Regions from separate parts of the Homo sapiens genome. Here region 1 is linked to region 2. Evidence: fine-mapped expression QTL. A gene starts in region 2. The other region holds a variant in brackets. All regions are shown on one strand. Distances are from middle to middle. Region 1 holds the start of FUT2 (fucosyltransferase 2 (H blood group)). Region 2 holds the start of SULT2B1 (sulfotransferase family 2B member 1).

Region 1 (4,383 bases), 140 kb after region 2:
GTTGTTGTTGTTGGTTTTTTGTTTGTTTTGTTTGTTTGTTTGTTTTAGACAGAGTCTTGCTCTTTTGCCCAGGCTGGAGTGCAGTGGTGCGATCTCGGAACACTGAAACCTCCACCCCACCCCGCCTCTGCCTCCCAGGTTCAAGCAATTCTTCTGCCTCAGCCTCCCAGGTAGCTGAGATTACAGGTGCTCACCACCACACAGCCAGCTAATTTTTGTATTTTTTTTTTTTTAGTAGAGACAGGGCTTCACTATGTTGACCAGGCTGGTCTCAAACTCGTGACCTCAAACGATCTACCTGCCTTGGCCTCCCAAAGTGCTGGGATTACAGGCATTAGCCACTGCGTTTGACCTCTCCATTTTTACCTGTATAAATGAGTTCCACTTTTCCCCATACTGGAAGCACTGATCACCATTCTTCGGTGTCCTTGTGTCCCTGGACAGCCACCCTCACACACTTGTGTTTAAAAAAACTTTTCTTATTTTTTTCTTGAGATGGAGTCTCGTTCTGTCACCCAGGCTGGAGTGCAGTGGCGTGATCTCAGCTCACTGCAACCTCCACCTCCCAGGTTCAAGCAATTCTCATGCCTCAGCTTCCCGAGTAGCTGGGACTACAGGTGTGCACCACCACACCCAGGTAATTTTTGTATTTTTAGTAGAGACTGGGTTACAGCATGTTAGCCAGGCTGGTCTCGAACTCCCGGTCTCAAGCAATCTGCCTGCCTCAGCTTCCCAAAGTGCTGAGATTACAGGCGTGAACAACTGTGCCCAGATTTATTTTTTAATTTTTCAGAGGCAGGGTCTTTCTCTGTCACTCAGGCTGGAGTGCAGCGTCAGGATCATAGCTGACGCTGGACCTCCTGGGCTCCTCTTGCCTCAGCCTCTCAAGTAGCTGGGACTACAGACATGTGCCACCATGTCTGGCTAATTTTCTTTATTTTTTGTAGAGAGACAAGGTCTTGCTATGTTGCCCAGGCTGGTCTTTAACTTCTGGCTTCAAGCTATGCTCCTGCCTCAGCCTCCTGAGTAGCTGAGATTACAGGTGCATGCCTCCATGCCTGGCCACCACGGCCAATTTCAAGCTACCAATATGAGATCATTGAACATGCAATTGGAAAGAAATGCACAGTATTACATTGTTCTATAGCAAGCCTATTACACAGACATAATAAATGTAAATAGGCCAGGCAAGATGGTTCATACCTGTAATCCCAGCACTTTGGGAGGCTGAGGCAGGAGGATCGCTTTGAGCTCAGGAGTTCGAGGCCAGCCTGGGTAACATAGTGAGACCCCATCTCTACAAAAAAACACAAAATTAACTGAGTGTGGTGACGGGCACCTGTAGTCCCAGCTACTCAGGAGGCCAAGGCAGGAGACTCATTTGAGCCCAGGAGGCGGAGGTTGCAGTGAGCACATACATTGATTGGCACACAGATTGGCAGATACTAACATACAGTGTGTTTTTTTCTCCAGAGAACTGGCTGGTAAGTGTTTACCATAGTAAGAAGACTTACTATAGAACAATGTATTACTGTGCGTTTCTTTCCAATTCCATGTTCAATGATCTCTTATTGGTAGCTTGAAATTGGCCGTGGTGGCCAAGCATGGGGGCGTGCACCAGTAAGGGAAAGCTGAAATGGAAAACAGAGGGTTTAGGGCAACAGTCCTGAATTCCGGAGTGCTGTCCCCCTGGGGGAGTTATGGGAATCTGTGGGGGTTGTTTTTAGTTGTCACAGTGGAGGTCCTAGGATGCTACCACAGCGTTTACGCGGCTGGGGTCAGCGACAATAAAAGTTACGCAATGAAGGTTTGTCCTGCATTCTCAGGACTTTGTTTTATTTTTGAGACAGAGTCTTGCTCTGTCACCCAGGCTGGAGTGCAGTGGTACCATCTCGGCTCACTGCAACCTCTGCCTCCCAGGTTCAAGGAATTCTCCTCCCCTAGCCTCCTGAGTAGCTGGGATTACAGGCGTGCACCACCATGCCCAGCTAATTTTGTATTTTTAGTAGAGATGGAGTTTCACTAAAAAAAAATGTTGGCTAGGCTGGTCTCAAACTCCTGACCTCAGGTGATCCTCCTGCCTCGGCCTCCCAAAGTGCTGGGATTGCAGGCATGAGCCACTGCGCCCAGGTCATTCCCATGACTTTGGAACATCTGTGGGACATTCATGGAGTTGGAAAGTCTAAGCCTCTGAGCCCCAAATCTGTTTTGCGTTTTTTTTTTTTTTTTTTTTTTGAGAGGGAGTCTTGCTCTGTCGCCCAGGCTGGAGTGCAGTGGTGTGACCTCGGCTCACTGCAAGCTCCGCCCCCGGGGTTCACGCCATTCTCCTGCCTCAGCCTCCCAAGTAGCTGGGACTACAGGCACCCACCACCACGCCCGGCTAATTTTTTTTTTATATATATTTTTAGTAGAGAC[G/A]GGGTTTCACTGTATTAGCCAGGATGGTCTCAATCTCCTGACCTCGTGATCCGCCCGACTCAGCCTCCCAAAGTGCTGGGATTACAGGCGTGAGCCACCACACCTGGCCTGTTTTGCATATTTTATGACAGCTCACCTCCCCACTTCCCCGCCCCACCCTGTTTCTTTTTTCCTTGTCGCTGAATCACAGGGAAACAGGTCGTTTGTCCTGTGGACGGGCTCACATTCTGGACTGGGCTGATTGCTGCCTCATGGTGTCGTTTCACTGGGAACTTTGTCCTCCTGTTTTCTGCAAACTGGTGGTTAGAGTGGGAAGCTTGATCTGATTTTTTTGTTTGTTTGTTTGAAGGGAGCTCCGTAGCTGGTAGGTAGCCTCCTGCTGCTTAGCTGAAGCTGGGGAGTGGCTGCTGGTTTCTCTTTCCTCCTGTTAGGACTGCTGGGAGCTCTGGTGGTGCCTGCCTCTTCTCTCAGTAAAATTCCTCATCCATCTTTTTTTTTTTTGAGACAGAGTTTTGCTCTTGTTTCCCAGGCTGGAGTGCAATGGTGTAATCTCAGTTTACTGCAACCTCCGCCTCCCAAGTTCAAGCGATTCTCCTGCCTCAGCCTCCCAAGTAGCTGGGATTACAGGTGCATGCCACCACGCCCCACTGATTTTTGCATTTTTAGTAGAGACAGGGTTTCACCATGTTGGCCAGACTGGTCTCAAACTCCTGACCTCAGGTGATCCACCTGCCTCGGCCTCCCAAAGTGCTGGGATTACAGGCATGAGCCACTGTGCTGGGCCATGGCTAATTTCTGTATTCTTATAAGGACGGGGTTTCACCTTGTTGGCCAGGCTGGTCTCTGACTCCTGACCTCAGTTGATCCGCCTGCCTCGGCCTCCCAAAGTGCTAGAATTACAGGTGTGAGTCACCACACCGGGCCCATTTGTATTTAAAAATTTTTTTGAAATAGGCAGGGCGAGGTGGCTCACGTCTGTAATCCCAGCACTTTGGGAAGCTGAGGCAGGAGAATCCCTTGAACTTGTGAGGCGGCGGTTGCAGTGAGCTGAGATCACGCCATTGCACTCCAGCCTGGGCAACAAGAGCAAAACTCTCTCAAAAAGTAATACTACTAATAATTAATTAATAAATAAATATAAGACTCTGAGGGGACTCAGAGTCAGCGAGAGCCTGGCCTAGCAGGACTCTGTCCCCCGCCTCCATGCTGCCTTCCTGGAGGCCTTCCTGGCTGCCTGGAGGAGCGGAGCAGAGTGGGGGCCCCTTTCTGTTGGGGCATCACAACAGTTCCCCAAGGAAGACCCTCGGGGACCCGGATGGGGGATGCGACCTTGTCCTGCCTCTCTCCCCCACCCTTATGGCCAGGCTTGGGGTGCCTGGTGCAGGTGGAGGAGCTAAGGGTAGATAACAAGATGGACTTTGTGGCCGGCAATGGGGAGGGAGGAGGGGCTACGGGCTCACCTCCCTCCCGCAGCCCAGCCACACCTGCTCTGGAAAGCCCTGTAGCTCCTGGGCGGGGTTTGCCAGTCACCGATGCTGGAAGGGTTTCTTTGGCCCTGAGTGAAGAGAGACCCAGAGGGAACACTGAGGTGCCTGCCCAACCACTCTGTCCCGGTTTCCTTCAGCAGGACCAGGTGAGAGAAGGTGAGGGGGCTCCTCTCCCACCCTACAACACGCACACCTCTGCACACACGCCCAGGCGGAGAGCAGGGATTTGGGACGTGGACCTGTGTGCCCTCGTGGGTCCCTGGTGCCCTCTGGGAGGCACCCCCAACTCAGGACCTCCAGGAGAGGAGGGTCCCTCCCTCGGCAGCCAGGACCCCCCTCCCCAGCCAGCCGCCCTCCTTAGCTCCCTCCCCACTTCCTTCCAGGTGGATCTGTTTCTAGAGCTCCAACCACCAGCTCCCTCCCCTTCTCCACCCCGGGCCACCAGGTCCTTCCTTGTCTCCTTCCCCTCAGCAGTTTCTAT
Region 2 (4,383 bases):
TTTGCATCTCCTCAGCTCCCTCCTCATTCTCCACAGAGATTCAGTGGACTTCTCCTGGCACCACCATGACCTTCACTCATTCCATCACGTCTTCCTGTGACAATTCATTCATTCCATCAACAGGCACTTATTGAGCATTTACTATATTCCAGGCTCTTCCCTTGGGAAATAACCGCAGATTTGACATAGAACAAGCCCTTCTTTCATGGGGTTGACAGTCTAGTGGGGAGATAGATGGTAAACAAGACAAAGAAGCAAAACATTTAGGAGGTCAGATGGTGACGAGTGCTATGGGAAAAAGTAAAACAGGAAAGAGGAATGGAGAAGTTGGTGGACGAGCCTGGGGGAGGTGACACTGGGCAGAGTCAGACGATAGGAGCCCACGAAGCTCCCAGGTATCAGGAACATGCGGGAATAGCAAGGGCAAAGGCCCTGCAGTAGGAGCCTCCCCTGGGTCTTAGGCCGCCTAGTTTGGCCAGTTTCTTTCCATTGCCCACTCAGGCACAACCTCAGGCCCTACTGCTCCCCAACCTTCCTGTGCCCCGGGGATGCCTCCGCACCTGCCTGCGAGTTTCCCTCTCAGGATCCCTAAGGACCTGGGCATTCCCTTCCCCAGACTCTCCCTAACCCCCCACCCCAGCAGCACACAGAGCCAGGGACAAAGGGTCATTGAATAGAAAACAAAGGTGAAGACAGCCCAGCCGGAGGCCTGGTGGGGTGTCATGGTTCAGTCCCCCACCTCCGACATCAGAGGGGTTCACTCAGCCTCAGAGGGGGATGCCTGGCCCTCTCACCCTTCCACCCACCCTGCAAGAGAGCCTTTTTATCAGCAGGAACATCAAGGCTTAACACTGAAAGTATCAAGGCAGAATGTTGAGGATGTGGACTCGGTAGTGGCTGGGGGCAGGGGCGGGTGCTCCCACAGCTCAGCCTCCTGGAGACGGGTCTTGGGGTGGTGAATTGAGAGATGGGATACCCCAGAACCCTCCTTTTCTGCTTACCATCAGAGTGAAGGCGGGCAGTGCTGTGTGCCCTGGGGGAAGCCACATTACCTCTCTGGGCCCCCTTCCTGCATCTGTTAGGTGAGTCTGACGTCTTCCATCCCCCTCACCTATGCAACAATAATTGGTCAGTATATACAATTTTATTTGTTTTGGCTTTTTTTTTTTTTCTTTTTGAGATGGAGTTTCACTCTTGTTGCCCAGGCTGGAGTGCAACAGTACAATCTTGGCTCGCTGCAACCTCTGCCTCCAGGGTTCAAGTGATTCTCCTGCCTCAGCCTCCCGAATAGCTGGGATTACAGGCACCTGCCACCATGCCCAGCTAATTTTTTGTATTTTTAGTAGAGATGGGGTTTCACTATGTTGGCCAGGCTGGTCTTGAACTCCTGACCTCAGGCGATTCACCCGCCTCGGCCTCCCAAAGTGCTGGAATTACAGGCGTGAGCCATTGCACAGGCTTTCTTTTGGCATTTTTTTTTTTTTTTTGAGATGGAGTCTCTCTCTGTCGCCCAGGCTGCAGTGCAGTGATGTGATCTCAGCTCACTCCAACCTCCACCTCCCAGGTTCAAGCGATTCTCGTGTCTCAGCCTCCCAAGTAGCTGGGATTACAGGCACCTGCCACCACTGGTGGGGAGACTGGCTTCATGACTCCAGGACTCTGAGGGGTCAGGGACCAACAGCTGGGGAGGGCCAGGGTTTGGGGTGGGGGCAGAAGAGAAGAGAACACCGTCTATGCTGAGCTCACTGTGTACCAGATCCTCCACCAGCAGCTGAGAGTGTCTCCCTCAGTCCTCACAACAGCCCGATGGGTGCCATTCACAGATGGGGAAACTAAGGCAAGATGAGCCTATGAGCAAGATGGTTCCCGGCCCCACAGCTGGGAGGCACTGGAGCTGGGATTTGAACCAGGGCTGTGACCTTCAGACTCTCACGCCCAACCATATCTGGCAGTTGTCTCTCATATCTGTGTCTCTCCCTGTCCCTGACCTTTCTATGTATCTCTGTCTCTGCCCTCTGTATATCGCTGCTGGGTCTCTCAGGGTCTCTGACCCCTGTGTGTCTCTGTCTCCTCTGGGTGTCCGTGTGTCTCTGTCTCCGCCCTCCGTGTATCTCTGTTGCGTCTCTCAAGGTCTCTGGCCCCTGTGCATCTCAGTCCCCTCCTGGTCTCTGTCTCCCATGCCCTCTGCCCTCTCCCTTTCTCCCTGGCTCCCGCCCTGTCTGTGCTGCCGTGGTCCTGGCTGTGCCTCTGTCCCTGTGTCTGTTTCCAGGGTGCCCCTTACGCGTCAGCCCGTGAGGGCAAGTTTCTGTCTGCCCCTTCCCCAGCGGTGGCCTAGTGCTTGGAACAGCGCCTGGCAGACAGGAGATGCTCAGTAAATATTTCTCAAATGAATAAAGGAATGAATGAGTGAATGAATGAATGAATGAATGAACTCGCTGAGATGGGCGAGATCAGCGCCATTTCCCAAATGAGCAACGTGGGCTCCAGGTGGGTGCCCACAGGCCCAGAACTGCCAGCCCGGAAGGTTCTGGCGTGGGCTTGGCACTGACCCCCTGGACTCTGCCCCCAGCTGAGCACCAGACGCCAGGACGTGCCCATCACTGCTCCTCCCCGCCCTCAGAGCAGGGTGGCTCCCTCTGGCCTCTCCCCGCTGTTGGAGGCGTGGGTAGCAGCTGGGAGAACCGGCTGGGTGCTGCCCCTCCCCTTGGGCCGGGCACGGAGTAGGCACCTGGCGGGCTCCCCAGGTGGCAGACGCTGTCGCTGCGCACACCTGGCCTCTGTGCCGCCTGCTCCCTGCTCGTCCTCCCCTCCCCACCCTCACCCACCTGCCATGGACGGGCCCGCCGAGCCCCAGATCCCGGGCTTGTGGGACACCTATGAAGATGACATCTCGGAAATCAGGTGAGGCCCAGACCTGGGCAGGAGCCAGGAGATCCCAGGGAGGAGGTGGCTGTTTGGGGGAGCCGGGGACTGTGGCAAGGGTGGCCTCCAGCCACCCGCAGCCGCAGGCCTGGCCCAGACTTAGCTGGAGGGGCTGGGCTGGGCTGGGGCATCCAGTGTGGTGTATAGGTCCCTCCTGAGAAGGGAGTGAGGACCCGACCGTGTTGAGTCACCAGTGGGGATGCCTGGGGTGTCCCTGTCGCTCTCCGGGCCTCAGTTTTTCTGTCTGTCAAAGGGGCCCACAAGCCCTGTGTCTCCCTGATAGAGCAGTGGAAGAGAGCAGGCAGCTTGGTGCATAGTAGTTGCTCAGGAAACACAACAGCCTGTAGTACCCAGGACACCCCATGCAAGCCCTGAAATAACGGGGGTGCTTGGGGGTGAAATGGGAGAGACTGGGATGCTGCTGAGACCCCCAGAGGGAGAAGCTGTGTTCTAGGGCACTTGGGGCGGAGAGGGCAGGCTCTGGACTCTTCAGGTCTCCTAACAGTGGTTAGGGCAGAGCACTGCCCACTTCCATGAGCTCAGCGTGACTCCCTCTTCCTGGGGATGAGTCAGACACTTTGACAGTACCTGCTTTCCAGATGGGGAAACTGAGGCTGGGAGGGAACGCGACATGACCGCAATTACGCAGCTAGAAGCAAATCTGAACCCGGTCTGTCTCACGCCAGAGCCTGTGGTTTCTCCTGCTCCTCACAGCCTTGGTGATGTCCCCTTTACACCCCTCCCCGTGGCTCCATCTTTTAGGGGAGCGCAGAGGCCCAGAGAGGGCAGGCAGCCTGCCCCAGATCACACAGCAAACTGCTGAGACAATCTCCAACCCCTCGTATCTTGCACTCTTGCCAAGTGAGACCTTCCTGGCAGCCTGGGCCCCTCCAGCCACCGTGGGCTGTGAGGAGGGAGACAACCAAGACCTGTTCTCAGCCCAGTTGCCTCATTCCTTTCTTATTTTATTTTATTTTTTTGAAATGGAGTTTCGCTCTTGTTGCCCAGGCTGGAGTGCAATGGCACGATATCAGCTCACTGCAGCCTCCGCGTCCTGGGTTCAAGTGATTCTCCAGCCTCAGCTTCCCAAGTAACTGGGATTACAGGAGCCCGCCACCATGCCCGGCTAATTTTATTTTTGTATTTTTAGTAGAGAAAGGGTTTCACCATGTCGGCCAGGCTGTTCTTGAACTCCTTGCCTCAGGTGATCCACCTGCCTCGGCCTCCCAAAGTGCTGGGATTACAGGCGTGGGCCACCACGCCTGGCCGCCTCATTTCATTCCACTGTTTCAGGCCCTCCCCTCCCCTCCCTCAGCCAGAAGCTGGGGCATGAAGAGGCCTTCCTGGGTGCCTGGGACTCCAGAGACAGGAGCAGTTCAATCCTGATTGCTGTGTGACCTAGACAAGCTTCCTGATGTCTCTGGGCCTCCTGGGCTGAGAGCTGTGACCAGGCTGGCCCAG

What was found. PIP is the estimated chance that this variant, and not a neighbour inherited with it, causes the effect.
Region 1: its variant is the best candidate, but not a certain one, in a credible set for the expression of SULT2B1 in lung (GTEx, PIP 0.77).

The regions. Positions count from the first base shown.
Region 1 is chr19:48,692,032-48,696,414 of GRCh38, forward strand. FUT2 (fucosyltransferase 2 (H blood group)) reads left to right here and starts at 3,940. Exons shown (of 2, transcript NM_000511.6): 1 at 3,940-4,058. RefSeq lists enhancers at 3,211-3,774, 4,339-4,383. The variant G/A (reference allele first, on the strand shown) is at 2,416.
Region 2 is chr19:48,549,423-48,553,805 of GRCh38, forward strand. It overlaps SULT2B1 (sulfotransferase family 2B member 1), which reads left to right and starts at 2,750. Exons shown (of 7, transcript NM_177973.2): 1 at 2,750-2,901. The coding sequence starts at 2,831. RefSeq lists an enhancer at 2,170-2,694.